6 linked regions of the Homo sapiens genome follow. The protein of the gene in region 6 purifies or fractionates together with the protein of the main gene of each other region. This does not show direct contact. Each region holds a gene or a part of one and is shown on either strand. Other genes may lie near its edges.

What was found.
Region 1: the proteins of PRKCQ (region 6) and FYB1 purify together in Homo sapiens (affinity purification with western blotting, with the first as the bait; one study listed by BioGRID). This does not show direct contact.
Region 2: the proteins of PRKCQ (region 6) and LCP2 purify together in Homo sapiens (co-immunoprecipitation; one study listed by IntAct). This does not show direct contact.
Region 3: the proteins of PRKCQ (region 6) and CRY1 purify together in Homo sapiens (co-immunoprecipitation; one large-scale study listed by IntAct). This does not show direct contact.
Region 4: the proteins of PRKCQ (region 6) and MEF2A purify together in Homo sapiens (co-immunoprecipitation; one study listed by IntAct). This does not show direct contact.
Region 5: the proteins of PRKCQ (region 6) and MALT1 purify together in Homo sapiens (affinity purification with western blotting; one study listed by BioGRID and IntAct). This does not show direct contact.

What each region holds. Positions count from the first base shown.
Region 1 is NC_000005.10:39,209,506-39,213,128, reverse strand, and holds part of FYB1 (FYN-binding protein 1), read left to right. Parts: intron 1-111; exon of another isoform or gene 112-451; intron 452-2,037; exon of another isoform or gene 2,038-2,071; intron 2,072-3,623. UniProt on the Homo sapiens protein: Acts as an adapter protein of the FYN and LCP2 signaling cascades in T-cells. May play a role in linking T-cell signaling to remodeling of the actin cytoskeleton. Modulates the expression of IL2. Involved in platelet activation.
Region 2 is NC_000005.10:170,266,714-170,270,336, forward strand, and holds part of LCP2 (lymphocyte cytosolic protein 2), read right to left. Parts: intron 1,770-3,623; coding exon 1,672-1,769; intron 363-1,671; coding exon 296-362; intron 179-295; coding exon 95-178; intron 1-94. UniProt on the Homo sapiens protein: Adapter protein primarily involved in signaling pathways within T-cells, as well as other immune cells such as platelets, mast cells, and natural killer (NK) cells.
Region 3 is NC_000012.12:107,020,450-107,024,072, forward strand, and holds part of CRY1 (cryptochrome-1), read right to left. Parts: intron 1,744-3,623; coding exon 1,635-1,743; intron 1-1,634.
Region 4 is NC_000015.10:99,568,886-99,572,508, reverse strand, and holds part of MEF2A (myocyte-specific enhancer factor 2A), read right to left. Parts: intron 3,569-3,623; exon of another isoform or gene 3,530-3,568; intron 1-3,529. UniProt on the Homo sapiens protein: Transcriptional activator which binds specifically to the MEF2 element, 5'-YTA[AT](4)TAR-3', found in numerous muscle-specific genes. Also involved in the activation of numerous growth factor- and stress-induced genes.
Region 5 is NC_000018.10:58,733,868-58,737,490, reverse strand, and holds part of MALT1 (mucosa-associated lymphoid tissue lymphoma translocation protein 1), read right to left. Parts: intron 3,610-3,623; exon of another isoform or gene 3,511-3,609; intron 3,185-3,510; coding exon 3,110-3,184; exon of another isoform or gene 3,104-3,109; intron 2,290-3,103; coding exon 2,162-2,289; intron 1-2,161. UniProt on the Homo sapiens protein: Protease that enhances BCL10-induced activation: acts via formation of CBM complexes that channel adaptive and innate immune signaling downstream of CARD domain-containing proteins (CARD9, CARD11 and CARD14) to activate NF-kappa-B and MAP kinase p38 pathways which stimulate expression of genes encoding pro-inflammatory cytokines and chemokines.
Region 6 is NC_000010.11:6,479,199-6,482,821, forward strand, and holds part of PRKCQ (protein kinase C theta type), read right to left. Parts: intron 1-3,623. UniProt on the Homo sapiens protein: Calcium-independent, phospholipid- and diacylglycerol (DAG)-dependent serine/threonine-protein kinase that mediates non-redundant functions in T-cell receptor (TCR) signaling, including T-cells activation, proliferation, differentiation and survival, by mediating activation of multiple transcription factors such as NF-kappa-B, JUN, NFATC1 and NFATC2.

The sequences.
Region 1 (3,623 bases), on a different chromosome or scaffold from region 6:
TGATTATTAGTTTAATAATGAAATTAGGAATGGGTATAAACTACTAAACTCTAGAATTTCTTGATAATTATATGAGTATATGTAGAGTTGGGTTTTTTTTTTTTTTGGCAGGGGGCGTGTAAAGGTGATTTGTTCGCCAAGAAAAGCACTTTTAGTAAAGCACAGATGTTAATCTAGATCATGGAAAAGTGCCACACACTAGATTTAGCACATAAGCAAGGAGTCTCTAGAACACTCAGAAGAAAATGAATGAATCCATGAATGAATGGACAAGTGAGAGCCCAGAGCAGCTGAAGCCATGAAGTGCTTTGGAAAGAGAAGCGTGCCTGGGAAAAGAGAGTGGCTGAGTGCTAAGAGCAGGGTGAACACCATGGAAAACTTGAAATTGAAAACATCACAATTTTAATGAGAAAAAGCGCAACCCAAAGTGAAGAGCACCATTATAACAAAGGTGAGAAAAGATGCTCATCTTATGACAGAGTCTTGTTTCTGTGCAGTTATCAGAAAAAGTGAGCTAAGAGGTGTGATGTGCTTATATTGTTTAATCCTGATTACTAAATACCAAATGCGTTTTCTTCAAAGCTCTAAAGGAGAAGAAATGGAATGGGAACAAGGGGGAGGGTTGAGGGCAGGGAGGATATCCCACATTGTCATATTCCTTAGAGTAAGGTTTCAAAATATTATCTATTTCTCTTTGTGGAATCTTCCATAGCTTTCCATTTCTAATGTATAGCTTTCACTTTCCTCAAATCGAACTCTGGATCTCTCATTGACTAGAAGCTGCCACATGCCTTTTTTTATTTTTTATTTTTTATTTTTTTGAGACAAGGTCTTGCTCTGTCACCCAGGCTAGAGTACAGTGGTGCATTCATGGCTCACTGCAGCCTTGACCTCCCGGGCTCAAGCAATCATCCCACCCCAGCCTCCAGAGTAGCTAGGACTACAGGCACTCACCACTGTGCCTGGCTAATATTGCATATTCTTTTGTAGAAATGAGGTCTTGCTTTGTTGCCCAGGCTAGCCTCAATCACCTGGCCTCAAGCAATCCTCCTGCCTCAGCTTCTCCAATTGCTGGGATTACAGGCCTGAGCCACCCATTGTGCCCAGCTGCTGCCACCTGTCTTGGTTAGCTCGTTGAGTTCTTCCTCTTCTTAGCAGTTTTCACACAGATCTTTTCACATGCTGGGAAGGAAGTCTCTAGAAAACCCCACAGATAGCCTCATTCCTCCACCCCCACTTCACTCCATGTAGACAATAAGCTTTCAGTTTCTAACATCATGTTGAGTGTAGAAAAGAAATTTACCACCCAGGAGCGTGTGTCTGTGTCTGTCTATGTTTTCGTGTTTGTTGGGAGTGACACGAAGGCTGAGGGAAAAAATAAAGCATAACATTTCTATTTTTCGCTTGACAAACAGTATCTTTCCCAGACATCAAAGATTTTTATTTCAGACTTCAAATGTCCTTAGCAAAATAAAGTTTTTGTTGGGGTGTACATGAAAATAGAACAACCATAAGAAATAGGCCGGGCGCAGTGGCTCACGCTTATAATCCCAGCACTTTGGGAGGCCGAGGCAGGCGGATCAAGAGGTCAGGAGATCTAAACCACGGTGAAACCCTGTCTCTGCTAAAAATACAAAAAATTAGCCAGGCGTGGTGGCGGGCGCCTGTAGTTCCAGCTACTCGGAGAGGCTGAGGCAGGAGAATGGCGTGAACCTGGGAGGCGGAGCTTGCAGTGGGCCGAGATCGCGCCACTGCACTGCAGCCTGGGCGACAGAGCGAGACTCCGTCTCAAAAAAAAAAAAAAAAGAAAAGAAAAGAAAAAGAAATAGTAGCTGAAATTTAGGTCTCTCTTTGAGGTTGGAGGAACAGAAAAAATGAAAGAACTTATATTGTATTATGAAGTGTACATCAACTATTAGCCTAAGAACCAAATAAGCCACTAATAAGATATCTATGAAAACATTTTTCAATTATCTACAAGTTCGTTAGTCAAAATGTAAATTCCTGAAAAACTGTTTTCTAATTTGGTATTTTCAGGTCATGCAGGCTGAGTGAATTATCCTAAACAAATGTAAGTTAAATTTGCTATAAAAAATTGTAAAATAGAATAAGAAAAATAAGTGGTTTTAGGACCATTTGTTGTTCTGTACTATCTACATCTCACTCTATATTCTCTACATCCTATCGCCATTCTATCCACATCAAGAACTCAAAAACATATAGCAAAACAAACCTCAGAAACACATAGAAACTCATATATATTTATATGTATGTATTTATACTAGAGACAGGCTCTCGCCACGTTGCTTAGGATGAACTCAAACCCTTGGGCTCAAGCGGTCTTCCCACATCAGCCTCCTGAGTAGCTAGGACCACAGGAATGCACTATCATGCCTGGCTAGAAAGTCGTATTTAACTTCCTTATCCATTTATGCTTAAGCCCTCAGAGGCCATGGCAAAGTCAAAACTATTTGTACAGGAGCTATTTTGTAGGATAACCAGGAAAAGAACATTGAAGGTTCGAATTTGTAGAATGATGATGATTGTCCCGCTCCTGATTCTAAAAACAGGGGGTACACAAAAATCCAACTGATGCACATGCCTTATAGAGAATACAAGGCGCCAGCATTTGGGAGGTGGACCATCACCATCAAAGCTTTACTACTTGCTAGGCTATCTTGCTTCTTCTGCTCTAATTCACTCTGGAAGAGAGAACACAGTAGAAACAGGAGAAGGATCCGGATCATCAGTGCTCGGAATAACACCAGACCAGGAGATAATGCACAGCGATATCTGTGGTGGTTTTTCTGCCAAGGTCCGAGGGGACCTGGCGGGGCACACACACCACCCAGAAAGTCCCCATTTAAGTCAGGTGTTTCCTTCCACATGACACCTCACAATGCAAGGCCATAGCAGACAGGGCATCGCTGGGGTTGTTGCAGTTCCACCTCCACCTTCACAAGTTACTGAAAAACATACAGGGGTTGTCACAATCAGGGCTACCACCGCTGCTTCCGCCACCAGGTCCTCCTACCCATGCCTTCGCCCAGAGCCTGCAGCAAAGGGCTCCCGCCCCAAGAACTTAATTTGCGGCGAGAGTCAAGTTCCCACATCCTGTTGAAGAGGGGCCTGGTGCTCTCTCCAGCCTCCGAGGCTCAGCCCACTGGAATGCATCACAGCCCATTTGCAATGAAATAGATATTCAATTGGCAAGTGCTTAAATCACAACTGCAGGTCAACAAAGGAGCTAAGAAAATCATCTCCTCCACTCCCATCTGTATGACCAATCAAGGTGAAATTTAAGTAAACGCAGTCCATCAGCCAGTACGTTCAATGCATATTATGGAAAGAGATGCGCCAGGATCAGGGATGTGTCTGCTTGTTTGCCGGGGAGGGAATTGCTGTTGAGGAGGAAAAATAAAACCAGGTTCCTGCTTTTACATCTCCTTAGGGAAACAGAGAACACACATGTAAATTATAATTCATTAAGAATCTAAATAGGCCGGGTGCGGTGGCTCACGCCTGTAATCCCAGCACTTTGGGAGGCTGAGGCAGGTGGTGGATCACCTGTGGTCAGGAGTTCAAGACCAGCCTGGCCAACATGGTGAGACCCCATCTCTATT
Region 2 (3,623 bases), on a different chromosome or scaffold from region 6:
TAGTTAAATGAGATGGTACATGTGAAACGTATGCAGGAAGCACTTTATAACAGCTTATCATTATTACTATGCATTAAATGTGAATCATACCCACCTAGTGTGAAGGGTTCTCTATCAAACGGAGCTAATGAACGATCTAGGGGAGGTTTCGTGCTTCTGTCTATTGAAGGAGCAGGGACTGGAAGGGGAAAAGGCTGACATCAATTAAAAGAAGAAAGCAGTCGGCTGGGGGTTGGGCGGGGCTAGGGGAGTGCCTGGTGGGAACAGGGCAAGAGAGAGCAGCCCTTGTACTCACGCTTTGCCGTTTTGTGGTTTCTGCTTCTGCTGGGTTCTTCGTGGTTGGTCTGGGGTGGGGGCAGTGGCTGCATAAAGATCCAAACGTTAGGAAGCACTTCCAATACATCAGCAAGAGCCGGCACTCCCAAAACCTGTCTGGATCTGCTCACTTTTCCTCATCTTCATGTTCTGCCTACAAACATCCATGTCCATTTCTTCACTGAACTACCGCAGTAGCCTCCTATCTGAGCTCCCTGTTCTAGACTCTGCCACGCAAGCTCTTTTCTGCAGGCAGCAGAGTGAGCATGTCACTTTCCTGCTAAGCCTCCTATCACATTAGAAACAAAATTGAAACTCGTTAATGTCCTGCGAGGCCCTGCCTGAGCTGGCCCATGTCTGCCCTCTCAACTCTTTCCTGTGATCCCTTCTCAGTACTCATGGGGTCCCTACCATAGAATCTTCTTGCAGTTCCTGGAAAATCTCAAGGTTATGCCCTCTTTGGCATCCCTACACTTGTTTCCTTCTGCCTAGAACGTTCTTCTCCCGGCTCTTCCCACAACTGGCTCATTCTGTCCCAGGTCCTTGTCACCTCCCCCCCCCATACCGTCATGTTACCTGGTCTTCCGTCCCCCGAACCACACATAACTACTCAAATGATCTCTTTCAGACATCTGTCTACCGTCTGATAACTAGCCCTAGTTGAGTTTTATGAAAGCAGGGACCTTATTTATCTTGTTCACACTTTATCCCCAACGCCTAGAACTCTGCTTGGCACATAGTAGCTGCTCAGACAATATTTGCTGATTAAATAAGTGAATCCTGCATCTCAAAAGAAGGTCTTCAAATCTCAAAAGCAATATACATCTGTAGATAAACTTGTGAAGGGAACACATTCCTAACTATCAAGTCCTTAGTCTGAGCTTCTCAGGGTCACTCTGGGAACTTATCAGATTCACAAGGACCGGGCTGTATGCTCGAAGAAGGAGAAAACGGGGTTTGCTACCTCTGTCTCCTCCGGTCTGAAGGCTCCTGTCCTTGGAATTTCAGGTGTCGGCCAGAAGGTGGCGCAAGTCTTTTTGCAGGAGAGAGGAAGGCTCGGTACCCAGGCAACACCAGTAGGTGCCACGGACTTAATTCGGTTCTCTTTGGGTTTATTTTACAGTTTTCACTTCTCTCAAATAGTGGGAAGTAAATAAAAACCACCAGTATTTTACCCCAAAAAAGAAACACGTGTGAATGCTTGGGTTTGCCTTTCCCCAGCCGAGGGAAAAGATTATAATCTTTTCTTACAAAATTAGAATGAGATAAAGATGTTTATAGTTTTATTTTTCTCTCTGGCGGAGGAAATAACTGCAGTGGACACCAAGTACTGTAAAAGAACGGGAGGAGGCCTACCGAGTGATTCCGGCCGGCTGGTGGGGGCGGGAGGGCGGCCATCGGTCTCTGGGGGGGCACAGGAGGCTGCTGGGGGGTTTTCCCAGAGGGGGGCCGGTCTGTGGAAACACAAGGTTATTAAAGTGAAAGGGGAGTATCGGCCAAGCTCAGGGGTCTCCAGGAACAGATATGCAGCTCGGGGCACCGGGGGTGCATGATCCTTGACCCCCAGGCCCACATGAGCCCCAGCCACGGGGAGACCCAGCCTGGATCTCACCCACCCCTCCCTGCCCATTTTTTCTGTCCTAGTTTGTGTCACTCTCCTTATACACAGGCTCAGCTTTCTTTGCATTTCACAGGAATAGGTATTTATCAGAGATTTTGCCAATCAAGAAAGGCCTCTTTGTAACCAGCTCAGCCAGAACTGGAAGGGAGGATTTTCAGACAATTTTGTAAGAAGTAAACATACGCATACCTCTGTATGCAGACACACAGATATACACATGTGCACACATGCATGCACACACATGCATATATATGCACACACCTGCATACACAGAGACACGAGTGCACACAGACACACACACATGCCAAAAATCTCACAGGCACACCCAGCTGCCTGTGCAGGGTGAAGTCAGCTCTCACTGCCATAGGGATCTTGTTCTGTCTGCCCTTCCTTCCCCTCTCCAGTGTCCTGGGCTATCTCCTCCCTGACACTTCCTCATTTTGCTCATCTCTTCCCATAAAGGGAGGAGCTGATCACCAACTTCTGTTACCAGACCACAGACTCTTAAGTGGAAGCTAGATTTGCCTCGAGCAGAAACTCACATTATCTGGGCAGAAACTCACATTATCCACATCTCCACGGAAGTGTCCCTAGGCCAGGTTGACAGGCTGGCAATTTCCTACCCCTTTGACAGGGAAAGGCCAGGACAAGACCATCAAGCAAGAGGGGTGAGTGGGTAGGGCCTCCTTACGCTTTGTGCCCTGGGTGCCTCTCTTGCCCGACTCTAGTCCCAGCCTTGGGGAGGTGCAGCTCTTCCACAGGGAAAAGGGTAGGAGCAAGGCCCAGCCTGATCTAATTCCACCCTGCTCCACCCGCACTGGCCATCTCTCAGCTTCTCTAATAGGCCATGCTCCTTTGAGCCTCAGGGCCTTTGCACAGCCATTTCTACTGCTCCAAATGTTCTTCCCTTACCACATCCATTTCCACTTGGCCAACTTGTATTTATCCTTTAACCTTGGTTTAATATCACAGCTTAAAGATACACCCTCAGGCAAACGCTCCAGCCTCATCTGTGCTTGTCTTCGTGCCTCTGTATCACGGTTTCACCAAGTAACCTCATGGCTCATTTGTTGGAGGGTGCGTCACCTGCCAGACTGTCAGTCCCTTGGCGAGGGCTGTCTTATTCACTCTGTATCTTAATGACTGGCACACACAAGGCACTCAACAACTGACTCATCCATTGCTTTTCCGGACCTCCACTTCCCTGTATATGAAACAGACTTGATCATGGTTGTCCTTATTACACAGATGTTTAAAAACCACCATGAGATATTGAGACAGCATTTTGTGAAAGGGCTTTAAAATGGAAATGGGTTATACCGCATAAAGGATTAAATGGTATTCGTTTTTTGTGGTACTGACCTTCAATTTTCAGCGTACTCTCTGAAAGTATATTATTTAAGAATATATTTGTTTATTTTCTGTCAACACCACTACTAGAATGTAAGCCCCAGGAGGCAGGGGCTATTTCTTCTTTCCTGATCATTTCTAAGCACTGAGAATGGGGCCTGGGCTCCCAGCAGATCAACAATGTTTGTTGAATGAATGGAGAGAGAAGTGGGCTAAAAGGACAGATAGACAATAAAAATCGTAAACACCATCTAATATTTTTTAAAGTTATAGTCAAACCCTACTCAATATCTTCATGTTTATTCTAGCATAATAATGCCATGTAACTATAATTTGG
Region 3 (3,623 bases), on a different chromosome or scaffold from region 6:
TGGTGGGAGGTGATTGGATCATGGTGGCAGATTTCCCCTTGGTGCTCTGATAGTGAGTGAGTGCTTGCAAGATCTGTTTTTTTTTTTGTTTTTTGTTTTTTTTAAAGTGTGGCACCTCCCCGCTCCTTCTCTCTTCCTCCTGCTCTGGCCATGTGAAGTTCTTACTTCCCCTTTCCCTTCCCCTTCCACCATGATTGTAAGTTTCCTGAGGCCTTCCCAGAAGCCACTATGCTTCCTGTACAGCCTGCAGAACTGTGAGCCAATTAAATCTCTTTTCTTTATAAATTATACAGTCTCAGATATTTCTTTGCAGCAATGTGAAAATGGACTAATACAGTAATAAATAGGAAGGGATGAATACAAAAAGGGCAATGAGGAAACTCAGTTTCTGGTCTGGGCATTTCCATGAGCTAGTTGTATGATCTTGGGCAACTCAATTATTCTCTAGGCCTAATTTTTTCATTTGGAAAAAAGGGAAGAGATAAGATTAGGTATCTTAAACATTTTTAAAGATTTTTAAGATCCTACTAAGTTTTTTAAAAAGCACTACAGTGCTGGGCGCAGTGGCTCACACCTTTAATTCCAGCACTTTGGGAGGTCGAGGCCGGTGGATCACCTAAGGTCAGGAGTTCGAGACCAGCCTGACCAACATGGTGAAACCCTGTCTCTACTAAAAGTACAAAATTAGCCAGGCATGGTGGCGTGCGCCAGTAATCCCAGCTACTCAGGAAGCTGAGGCAGAAGAATCACCTGAACCCAGGAGGCAGAGGTTGTAGTGCGCTGAGATTGCGCCATTGCACTCTAGCCTGGGCGACAAGAGCAAGACTCCATCTCAAAAAAAGAAAAAAAAAAGCACTACAAATTCTGTATTATTGGTAAAATGTCCATTGTTACAATCCTTTGACCCAGAAAGTCTTCTAAGAATTATCCCACAAATGTACTGGCCCATGTGAGCAAAGATTCATAAATGTGGACAAGTAAGTTCACTGGCATTTATACTAGCAAAAGGCCTACAGAGAAAATAATTAAACGTTCAGTAGAAAGCTAGTTTAAAAAATTATAGCCATCTACAAAATGGAATACTATGAAGTCATCTGAAAGACCGAGGAAATGATATGGAACAACTTCCAAAAGATATGGTTATGTGAACAAAGCATGGCAGAGAATGGTGTGTATAGTGTGTCATTTTAACTTTTAACAAAGGGGACAGTAACACAGACACAAACACATGGATGTGTGTGTGTGTATACACATATATATATACACACACACACACAAAAATATATATATATACACACACAAAAAATTCTTGTTTATGCAAAGAATATTTCTAATTGGATAAACAAGAAACTGGAATTGGATACATAAGAAACTGGTAGTAGCTGTTGCTTCTGGGAGGGCAACGAGCAGTTTAAGGTAGAAGAAAGATTGAACTTTTCATTGTAAACTATTTTCTCACTGTCTGATTTTTACCATGTATAGCTTTTTCATTAAATAAAGAAAAAAAACCCACAAAATTTTTACTTGAAAATACTTATATTCGCTACATTTTCAATTAGTCAAAAAACTTTATTTACCAAATATGTAATATTATCTGAGAAAAGATTGTTTTATGCAAATATTTTTCAAATTACCTTGAAAAGCCTGGGAAACACATCTGCTGGTTGTCCACGAATCACAAACAGACGGGAGTTTAATTTTCGTAGATTGGCATCAAGATCCTCAAGACACTGAAGCAAAAATCTAGAGAGAAGAAAGTATTATTTAAATTATTAAAAAATACATATTTAGAAGACATAAATTATTACAAAGTCATGTTATTCTAAAAGTTGAAATGCCAACCTATCATCTTATTACCTCCTATTGATATATACTTTTTCCAAAAACCATACTAATATATATTTTTTAATTATAGCACAAATTACCTAGTATTTTAATAAAATACTGAATAAAATCACTAATTTTCATTAAATAAAAGTGACTATTAGCAAAAATTTAATTTGTGAACATAAAAACATACAAAGAAGTATCAAAGCAATTAAATTGGTTTCATTGTTTAAACTTGATGAAATATTTTCTGTATGAAAATGGCTTTTCATATAGAAAGGAAAACTTGAAAAATCTAGAATATCTTCTGCTGGGGGGAAAAAACCAGAAACATCCTATGTAATGAATAAGCAAGTGAATAATTTAAGAATATCATGGTAAAAAGGAATCTGAGGGGACAAAAAAAAAAGATTATGAGTACTTTTTTGTAATATTGTAATCATTTAAGAGATTGAAATCATAATGCCCATTTTCAAGTTTCTAATTTATTAAAAAAAGAAACTAATAAGTAGATGCCAAATTATGTGGTTATTAATTCCCTGAGTGTAGAAAATGCCAGATTAACTTCTAAAAAAAAAAAAAAAGAAAAGGTTTCATGGAGTTGGGGTGGAGATTATAGACTTTTTCAATGAAATAAGTAGTAACAAGGCTTACACATGACAGATATCTAGGAAAATTCTGGGGCAGTACCAGAAGACTGCTTACTGTGCATCTTCTGTTGCGAAGAAATGGAACATTCCCAAGAACAAATTTAAAAGAGATGTCACCCATGGAAGGTCCAATCTTATTATTTGACTCATGTTAAGTTTCATTTAGATTCTGTTCTTTTCAGCTGGACGTATCTTATTTCCTATTTTGCTTCTTTTATGTTTTTGATCTCAAGGTTAAGTATTTGTCTGCCTTTTTCACAGGCCACATGGTCTTTCAGAATAGCAATTATCTCTTACTTGTGAAGAGGAGTGATTAAGAAGCAGGGAAATGCAAATTCTAGAAGTGCACTATCTAATATGGTAACCAAAAGGCACATGTAGCCATTTAAATTTAAGTTAGTTAAATTTAAAAATCAGTTCCTTAGTCACACTTGCCACATTTCAAGTCCTCAACAGCCACATGTATAGCTGGTGGCTGGCTACCATACTGAACAGTATAGCTACAGAACATTTCCATCATTGCAGAAAGTTCTACTGGACAGATTGTTCTAAAAAGCTGCTTGGTCTAGATCATTTTGTTCGCTTTACACATTCCGATACCATCATTTCACCAAATAAGTCTTGTTGATTTTTTACAACTGTAGTTATTAGTGACATAAGTGCACTAGTCAGGTCTGACACTTCTTCCTCTTTAGGAGCACCATCTGTACAGCTTGAAGAGTCAAGGTGCTATATTTTTATGAGGATGTTAAAGACATCCCACCATTTCACCTTAGGAAGTCTCATGGGTTTCCAAGTAGGAAGCAAACCTTTCTATCCCCACATTTATATTTTATCACATCCCTTTTCTGCCTTGGTTTGGAGTCACCTCCCTAACACCTGATCCCCATCCTAACCCACCACTACCAATGTACAAATATTTCAGGGGAGAAGACTGTTGTTGTTAGATGGATAGTGATATAAAAGCATTGGAGTTTAATAAAATTATCTCCAACTATGAATAATTTATCATGTCTGGTGACAAATGTTTATTGGGAAGCATCTAATTTTATGTATTTGCTTGGCAAGAAGAGTTACTAGACAGAACAAAGATCGAAGGGTTTTTACACAGATCAAAAATTAAGAAGTTGAAAGAACTAGCAATTT
Region 4 (3,623 bases), on a different chromosome or scaffold from region 6:
CAGGTAATGGACAAATACCATAAATAAGCAATAACTAAACAAACCAGGTATACACAAATTACAATTGTCTTGAAGGAAATAATCTGTGTAAGAGAGTAAAATGACAGACTGCAATATTAAATAGGATGGTCAGATTAGGCCTCTGAGTGAGAAGTGAGATTTGGGCCAAACTCCAAAGTGTTTAGCCAAGCCAGACATTTGAAGAATATCCCAAGGAGGGAGTACAGAAAGTGCAAAAGGCCCTAGAAGAAAAAAGGGTGCAGAGGGTTTAAGAAACACTGAGAGGCCTTCGTGGCTGACATGTGATGAATGAGGGGAAGAATGATGAGAAGGAGAAAGCTCATTCAGGGCCATTTAGGCCACAGAATGGAGGACTTGATTTTGAGAGGAATGGGAAGTCACCAGAAGATTTTAAGCAGAGAAATGATATGATCCAATATAGGCTCTTAAAATAATTCTCAGGCTGCTGTGTGAAGAAAAAAAAAAAAAAAAAAACTTCTATGGAGCAAGAAGAAAAAGAAGCAGCCCACTTAGAAAATTACTGCAGTACTTCATGCAAGAGAATGATGGCTTCAAATAAAGAGGTGGCAACGAAGACTAAGAGCAGTGGACTGCTCAAGGCAAATTGTGAAGGTGCAACAGGACGTGGGGATGGATTGGACTTAAGAGAAATGGAAAGAATCAAGAATAATATCTTAAGTTTTTGGCTTGGGTACTGCCATTTATGGATATGGGGAATGCCAGCAGAGACACCAGGGTTTAGGGGTAGGAAGAAGGTTGGGGGAAGAGGGAAAAATAGCTATATTTTACCCACATCATTTATATTATACTTGAGATTCCAACTAGACTTCCAAGTGAATATCAAACTCAAGAGAAGTCTGGGCTGGGAAAATAAAAGTAGTAGTCATCAGTATGAAAACATATGGCCTTTTCAGATTAGCGCTAATAGCTGGCTTTGACTAGGGCATAGAAACTGAAAGGTGATGGCTGAAAATGAGCCTCAAAAGACACGATGGAATCATATTATAAAGTGAGCCATGACTAACAGCAATAGCAGTAGTAGTAACGATAGTAATGGTAGGAGGAAAATTAATGCAGGTTATATACCAGGCACTGCACTTTATAATACACACCTCATTTAATCCTCTCAAAAACTGTATGAAATAATGTTATAATTACTATTTTATACACTAAGCCTCAAAAATCATAAGAACTTGCTGAAGAACACAAAGTGCAAGTAACTAAATAAGAACACAGTAAGAACAGTGGGTATTTTAACTTAGGATGGGAAGTCTGTTGTTGTTGTTGTTGTTTTTTTTTTTTTGGAGATGGAGTCTCATTCTATCACCCAGGCTGGAGTGCAGTGGCACGATCTCGGCTCACTGCAACCTCTGCCTCCTGGGTTCAAGCGATTCTCGTGCCTAAGCCTCCAGAGTGGCGGGATAACAGGTGTGAGCCACTATGCCCGGCTAATTTTTGTATTTTTAGTGGAAACGGGGTTTCACCACGTTGGCCAGGTTGGTCTCAAACTCCCGACCTCAGGTGATCTGCCCGCCTCCACCTCCCAAAGTTCTGGAATTACAGGCATGAGCCACCGCGCCCAGCCAGGAAGTCTGATTTTACAGGCCAATCTTCTATCCCTTACATTACTGCCACTCTATTGATCTCATACGCCTTCAAAAGTTGTTTTTTTTTTTTTCTTTAAGAAGAAATGACATATAGATCTGAATTTTAGAAATATAATTCCAATTTCTATGTAGAAGATGGACAGCTAAGGATGAGGACGAGAGGTGAAACAGGCAAATATAGTATTAGTCAATGCAAGAGCCGCTTGTTTTATTAAGCCCAAAAGTTACAATTTCTTTTACCAGGTCGAATGGGAAGCAGCCCTTTGTTCCAAGTGTCACAAATCATGCCTCAAATGAATCCACGTCAACCTGCACATGCATGCTGCTGGTCACGCAAGTAACAAAGTAAAAATGTCCAGCTCATGCAGTATAAACTTACTGACCACTACTGAAAACCTTTCTCAAGCATATAATTTTAATAATGGTGAGAATTTTTTTAAGTCCATATATTAAAGGTTTTTGTTTTGTTTTTGCTTTGTTTCCTTTTTATGTTTTCATGTTTTCTTGTTTATTTTGTTTTTGAAGTTTGTATTTTTGTGTAAGGAAGTAAAATTAGTATTAATTCAAGACAACCATAAAAAGACATGCCCGGGTTGGTATTTACTAGAAGTTTGATTAATTAATATGTTTTTCACCCATGTTTGTTCCTCTGGCTTTTATCAACATCACTTGTTAAAATAATGATGAAGTAAATTACCTGCCTTCATACACCAATGTTTAAATATGGTATTCCACCTCACAAAGGAGCTAATATTTTTAACTCATATGCTTATGATTTCATCTCGACTAAGATAATTAATAATTAAAATATTAAATTCAGTAAATATCAATTAAATTCTGTAAATATAAATATTATTAAAGTATAAAGCATCTATATAAAAATTTAGTACTTATTAAATAAGTACCAACCTATATCGTGTGCTATGTGTAAGATTTACTAATTAACAAATGGATTTACACTCTTAATTATAATAAACTGGACACAAGGTCCATTTATTATAAGGCACACAGATAAACTATACACGAGAAAATCATTAATTTCACACCAAATCAAAGTATTTTAAAAATTACAGATTAACTAAAGTTACTTTAAAATATTAAAATAACCTTCAATATTAAAATATTTAAAAACTTTTCTTCAGAAATTAAGCTATTTTAAAATACCTATTCAAGGTAGATTACAGAAGTATTCTTCTAACTTTAAATTTCAAATACTATATCTTAGAGACCACTCCCACAGTCAATCCCTAAAAGACAGAATTCACTGAAGATTGGGAAACTATTTATATTTAACTTGAATCTTTAGAAAAATATTTGGGGAGATTATGGAGATTAGAAACAAACTATGGTTGAAGATCAAAATTCTAATGTTTTAAAACAGCCAATTAAGCGTTTTATGTATAATCTGACAATGAATTTAAGATGCTGGGATATTTTATCCAAAACAAACACATTAAGCATTCTCTATTGATACATTATACGAAATCCTTTTGGTCACAAACACTAAACGTATGGGTACTGGGCAGGGTACCTACATAATCTTCAGAGGAAAGAAGAAACAAAAGCCAGAAGGGATGCAGGGAGATCAGGCAATACGCATTTTCGCACATGAAGCTTCACGCAGTGTGTTAGAACTTTTACACTCGCTATCTCATTTAATTCCAACACGGGGCAGGTAGTGTAATTCTATCTCATTTTACAGGAGATATCTCAACTCTGTCAGCAGTGGAGCTGGATCTGAATCAAGATCTGACTACAGAGTCAAGCAGCCTTCCTTTACTGGGGCTTGCAAATCAGCATATGTTAAAAGCATTCTCTTGCACGAGGTTATCCAGCTTAAAGGGTGATCTGATTTCCATATTTACACTTATTATTTAAACATTAGGAGAGAAGGCACTCACTTCTCCATTTACTAAGAATCCACAGATTTTCTTTCTTATCTAGAAAAAAGAAATAGTGATCATTTTTGGTCCACAAATGGTTTTCTCATAGTGT
Region 5 (3,623 bases), on a different chromosome or scaffold from region 6:
TTTTTTTTTTTGAGATGGGGCTTGCTCTGTCACACATGCTGGAGAGCAGTGGTGTGGTCATACTTACTACAGTCTCAAACTGCCAGGCTCGAGCAATCCTCCCACCTAAGTCTCGCGAGTAGCTGGCACTGCAGGTGCACACCATAATGCCTGGCTAATTTTTTAAATTTTTATAGAGATGGGGGGTCTGACAATGTTGCCTAGGTTGGTCTCAAACTTCTGTGTTCAAGTGATTCTCCTGCCTCAGCCTCCCCAAATGCTGGGATTACAGGCATGAGCCACTGTACCTGGCCCCAAATAATTTTTTTTTTAAATTGAGATGGGGTCTTGCTGTGTTGCCCAGACTGGTCTTGAATTCCTGGGCTCAAGCAATCCTCCTACCTCAGCCTCCCAAAGTGCTGGGATTACAGGTGTGAGCCACCATGCCCAGCCATGGAATGAGTTTCAATTAAGTAATCTGGAAGATCCAAAGGGAGAAACAGCAAAGTTTTGTTTCAAAATTGGATGACTTGTGAAAAATTTCATACAACTACTTTTGCTCTTTACTACTAAGACAGGGGTCAGACACAAAGCATCCAAAACTCAAAATAAGGGCTAGATTTAACTGTATTATTTATCATGATACTATTAGGCCTTTACTTATTTTGTACAATGAGTGGGCCGTTACCCACGAAGGGCACAATGTGCACGGCACTGAGCTGAGTGTGCTCCATGTACACTACAGGGTCTTCCTGCCTGGGCAATTCTGGTTAAGCAGACATGGTAGGACTGAAAAAGATCAGCGAAAAGCAAAACTGTCTAAGATGTTTATAAGAAGTTCAAATATCCTCACAGCACATATCGGGATGCCATTCATTGCTATGACAATTTGGTAAATATCATATGTGAGTGAGCATGGTGCTTTTTATTAAGTTTTAAAATAGTTAAAATGGACTTAAAAACGAAATTGAAATAAAACACTGTAGAGTTTCTGGAGCACCTTACTGGATCTCAGTTTGAATATAACTGACATAATCCAAAGGTTTTCTTTCTTTCTTTTTTTTTTTTTAAAGCAGCAGAGCCTTTCCTTCAAATGTAAGCTTCAGAAGAAGCCTAATGTAGAAAACAAATAAAAGTGGAACTTCTCTGGATGAAGCGGGAGGGTGGCAGGAAGTCCAAAGCCCTGGCTGGTTATGTTAAATGGAAAAGTGGCTAAGTCAAGTGATCTAAAATAGCTACACAGATAAAAACATGAAAATAAATATGGCTGACAGTTGGTCAAACACCTTATACCCAAACTGCCATCACTGGAACATCCATGAAACTCCATTTTCTAGTGGTGCTAGTTTGTAAAATAATTTCTTCTTTTTTATTTTTATTTTTTATTTTGAAGACAGGGTCTCGCTATGTTGCCTAGGCTGGTCTTGAACTCTTGGCCTTAAGTGATCCTCCTGCCTCAGCTTCCCAAAGTGCTGGGATTACAGGCTTGAGCCACCATACCTGGCCAAGTTACCTTCTTTTTGCTATGGCTTATAAAATGTTTTTTCAAAAAACACAGTGCAATCTACTGAAATAATAGGTACTTGTTCAGCATCTGACATATGCACAGCATTATACCAGCAGGCAGGGAGAACAGATAGAAATGGAAGATGTGGCATTAGACCCCCTAGGATCACATCCTTAAATCAGGATTTAAAAACTACTAAGTTCATCAGGGAAAAAAATGAACTCAGCTTTTCCCAGCAGTGTCTAAAAATTTCTGTAAAGTTTTCTCTCTCCCATCCTGGGAGAGACTGCTCACTGGACAATTCCCCACCACCCCTCCATGCCACCCACCCACCCTCAAATAGGGAGATTTGCCAGTACCAAGGCACTGGGCATAGAAGCAAAGTAGAGCTCTGAGAATTCAACTTTATTAATGACTGTGCCGAGGCTTAGCCTTGTAGTCTGAGTAATGCTGCACAGATGGTGGAGAGCTAGGTCAAAAGGGAAGGAAAGATGACATTAAATAGCAGAAGTGTTGCTGAACGTTATATTAATATAAAAATTGTTTTATAAAGTAGGTACTAATTCCAAACCCACATAATAAGAATAAAACAATCACCAGAGAGGGAACCCTGAATAGGTGTGTCTCCCCTGCTCTCCTTTTTCTGAGTACTTTTCTCTTTATTTTTTATTTTACCTTCTGCAACTTCATCCAGTAACACAGTGATTTTCTTATCTTCTAATAATCTGTCTTTTAAAAATTTCATAAAGATTCCATTTGCCAATCCAGAATGCTGGATTTCAAAAGCTTCTGCTCCTTGACACCTTAAAAATAGAAAAAGAAGTTAAGCCAGGCACAGAAAGGCAAATACTGTATGTTCTCACTTATATGTGGATGCTAATAAAAATGAACTCAGAGAAGCACCCAGCAGAATGGTGGTTACCAGAGGCTGGGGGGGGGTGGGGACAGCGTGGGGACTGTTAGTCACAGGGTACAATGTTTCAGTTAGGAAAAAAGATAAGTATTTGAGGTGATATGTGAATTATCTTGATTCAATCATTCCACATTGAATACGTACATCATAGCATATCTTTGTATCCCATAAATACATACAATTATAACTTGTCAATATCCAATAAAAATAATTTTTTAAAAAGAAAATGTTAGAAAAGCAAACACTTGCCACATGGGACTTCTGTATACACCAATAAGCTTCATTTTCTCTTCTGCCTCTCACATGACATTGATAATTAAAGAGTTAATCTTTAAGCAGGAATTACATGCCCAATTTGGGCTTAATAATTAAGATACCATGATATGGAATGCTAAAGTCGATCATTTAAAATTTTCTACGCAGAATATCAAGGAGGTAAATTTATGCCTACATGTCTATAGGTATTTTCTAGGCCTCTAATCTATAATCAAAAAACCCTCAGGGGCCAGGCACAGTGGCACATGCCTGTAATCCCAGCGACTCAGAAGGCTGAGGCAGGAGGATCGCTTGAGCCCAGGAGCAGTGAGCTATGATGGCGCCTCTGCACTCCAGCCTGGGTGACAGAGTTAAGACCCCTGCTCCTAAAAAGCAAAAACAAAAAGACATCAAACAATAAAGGAAACTTCAACGTAAACATCAAATGTTCTTACGTGGCATATCCAAACACAATATTGGCGGTGACTTTTAGTGCATCCAAGATTGGAATGGTATCATCGTAGTCATTTCTATTTAAGGGAGGCGGAGGAGGGCAGATAGAAATATGAAAAGTTAAAGAGCATTCTTAAAAGGGTATAAATAATGAGAAAATACAACAGTTTTTTAGAATACATAATTTAAAATTATAGATTCAAAATTTTTCATCTAGGTAGCTACATATCTACCCAAAATAACCCACTAACTCCTTGTTAGCTTTAAAACTAGAGTTGCATTTGAACTCTGGCATTGGATTTTGATTGGTAAATGCTGAGCAAGCAAAAAAATAGTAAATCTAGAGGAACAGTCATTGGTTCTACTCCTTAGAAAGGCAATGGCAGACAAATGGGATCCAAACCTCCAAACATCTGCTTCGGCTACTCATTCCATGTCTGGAAGACCAGGACTGACTAGTGAGCAGAGATCCCAACTCCATGGGTGTTGGTTTTGTTAATTCCTGAGGGAATAACT
Region 6 (3,623 bases):
GAATTTGGATTCCCATTTCTTAAAAAAGAGACAGAGTCCTGAGAGACACCTGTGTTGGGTGGGAAAAGGGGTTCCTTCTCCAACCCCCATCCATCCTGCATAGGCCATTCCTGAGACAAAATGGAGCACTTCTCTGGTTTCGGACATGACATCACTATTTCATACTATCTTTGTACTCTTTCCAAGGGTTCACAAAATTATTAAGCAATTGAATGGATTTTTAAAAGTGTGCCCTGCCTGCTCAGGGATCTGAGTGAAGGTACAATAAAAATCCAGAGAGATAAAGTGCACAGTGAAGAAAGAAGAGTTGAGTGTGGAGAGGAGAAACTGTACTCGAAACATCACTGCAAGTGCACATAAATCCTAGCTTTACGTTTTACCCAGTTTTTCCAGGCCAAAAGAAGAATGGAGGGATATAGTTCTCCTTGTGTACTTAAAAAATAAACACCGGCCAGGTGCGGTGGCTCAAGCCTATAATCCCAGCACTTTGGGAGGTCAAGGCAGGCAGATCATCTGAGGTTAGGAGTTCGAGACCAGCCTGGCCAACATGGTGAAACCCCGTCTCGACTAAAAAAAAAAAAAAAAAAAAAAAAAAAATCCAAAAATTAGCCGGGCATGGTGGTGGGTGCCTGTAGTCCCAGCTACTCGGGAGGCTGAGGTGGGGAATTGCTTGAACCTGGGAGGCGGAGGTTGTGGTGAACTGAGATCATGCCACTGCACTCCAGCCTGGGCGTCAGAGTGAGACTGTGTCTCAAAATAAAAAAAAATAAATAAGTAAACACCATTTTCTCTGACAACACAGCAATGAATTATTCATAGCAGAATGTATGGCATGTAGTAGGTCCTAAAATGTGACTGACACTGGGTTCAAAGGATAACTTGCTCAGATTCTTCGAGCTACTAGGGAAAGATTTAACTCCGAAGTTTACTTTCCCACTTGATTTCGTGGCTCTCGTATCAAAGGACACCAAAATGGGAATGAAACATTTTAGGACCTACTGTGTGTCATACACTCTGCTACCTACTTTACACTTACGACCTAATTGTATTATCTAATTTAATTCTTAGCTCATCACACTCTGCAAGACAGAAGTTAACAACATCAACAACAAACACTGAGTTCAAAGAATAACTTGCTCAGATTCTTGGAGCTATGAGGGAAGATTTAACTCCAAAATCTACTTTTCCCACTTGATTTTGTGGCTCTTATATCAAAGGACACCAGATGGCATATGATGGAGGGTTTCAACAATTTTAGTTTTTGCAAATGATGCAGCAACACACTGTTGGCAATGGTAAGGGCATGGCATTTGGATACAGAAAATTCTAGCTCTAGTTTTATTTCACAGACATTTATTAGCTGTGGAAATGTGGGCAGATGAATTAGCCCCTCTGGGCTTCAGTTTCCAATTACTACTGCATTCTCTAACTTACAGGACTGTTGTGAAAGTCAGGTAAGATGAGACCTGGGAAAGTAGACTCTAAAATGATCTCTGAATCACAGTTGCTAAAATTCAGTCATTTGTCATTTGTTTCTGTTATTGACTTTTGGGAAAGGCCGAAGTCAATGATGTGACAACAGCCCTGAACATGTAAGTGTCTAGGTTTAAAAGCGACGGAGCAGGTTCGTAGCTTGATGGTAGCTGACTTGATAGAAGGGAAGGGATGAAACTTAGATGGGAATTCAGGCAAATGAATGATGCTCACATCCCCAGAGAACACACAATTTGTTTTCTTAGGCTTAAAATTTGTTTGAGAACAAGGGTATAGAGGTCTTGGTGAGGAAACATACTTTCCACATAAAGCCAGAAGAGAGAGAAAAGACAAGTTTTGGAGTATTCTCAGTGTTGTGAGAAAGAGAAACAGCCATCCTGTCTTGCTTTGATATCTCCCCCTCCTCTCCTCTCCGTGTATAGGGACCCAGGGTCCTGATGAAAAGAAGTAGACAGCTTTGGACATGGAGTGGGGGAAACCTGGGGCTCCCAGCTGCACCTTGGGATACCGACTAAGGCTTGTAGGTTTAACTTAATGTCTTCCTTATTAACCTTATTCAAATGTGGAAATCCACATGGGAACAAAGAAAGATAAACATTTCATTAACAATTAAAAGTCCTCTTTTAGTAATTGCTTCTTTCAGTAAAACACCCTAAAACCAGCCATAAACTAAGAAGCCAAAAAGACAATTTCCATCTATATAATGTGCTTTCAATTTTTGGTAACAGGTTATAATTGCACATTAATTGCTGCTAAATTACAATGAAGACTGGCTGTAACATTGCCTATTATGCTCAGATTAGCACCAAATGAGCCTACTGTGGTTCATATTATTGTGGAACTGAACAAAAAGAATTCCTGAATATCAGCTACCATGTGCTGGACAGAGTCGATTCTGCTGAAAGGCAAGGCATCAGTGTTTAAATCCAAACCCCAAATGGAGCTCAATATTATTCAGCTGTGGTGACCGCTCAGTTGCATTTTAGTTTGTTTAATATTAAATAAACTGGGTAAGACATCCTGCCAAAGTCTGGTGAGCAGTTGTGGTGTATAATGCTGCCTTTGGCTGCACAGATTCATAGAACAGTCATCTCTGATTAAAATTTTCCTGGGAGTCCCATCCAAGAATGTAAAACAAATAGGAGCCCCGTTAATACATGAGATACCCTTAATATCAAAAATTACCTAAAAGCCTATATTCCATATCATCCCTCCTTAAATCACCAGCTTGAAAATTTTCTGCAGTCACCGGTAGTTGGTTATAATTTCTTAAATTATCTCTTCTTCCTTCTTCTCACCTCCCCTTTTTTTTTTTTTTGCTCCTCCTCTCCCTCTTTCCTTCCTCTCCTTGTCATCTGTGAGTGATGGAGACAACCCCCCACCTGCATGTATGGCAGGAAGAATTTAGAGGAGGGACTTTCTCCACAATTTTTTTCCAGGACTCTCAAGCTACAGTTTTCTTATGGGCTGAATTGTGTCTATACTGAAGTTCCAATCCCCAGGACCTTGGAAAGTGACTGTATTTGGAGACAGGACCTTCAAAGAGGTAATTAAGGTTAGATGAGGTTATTAAGGCAGGTCCTAATCCAATATGACTGGTGTTTTCACAAGAAGAGAAAATTTAAGCAGAGTGTGGTGGCACAACTGTAATCCCAGCTACTAGGGAGCTGAGACAGGAGGATCACTTGGGTTCGGGAGGTCAAGACCAGCCTGGGCAACACAGTGAGACGTCATCTCAAAAAAGGAGAACACTTGGATGCAGACATGCACAGGAGGAAGATGATATGAAGGCATGGAGAGAGGGCGACCATTGCAAAGCATGGAGAGGGGCCTGGGAAGAAACAACCCAGACAACACCTTGATGGTGAACTTCCATCCTCCAGACCTGCGAGAACATGAATTTCTGCTGTTTAAGCCAGCCAGTATGTGAGATTTTGTTATAGCAGCCTGTATTAGTCTGTTATCACACTGCTAATAAAGACATGCCCGAGACTGGATAATTTATAAAGGAAAGAGGTTTAATGGACTCGGTTCCACACAGCTGGGGAGGCCTCGCAATCATGGTGGAAGACAAAGGAAGAGCAAAGGGACGTCTTACGTGGTGGCAGGTGAGAGGGCATGTGTAGGGA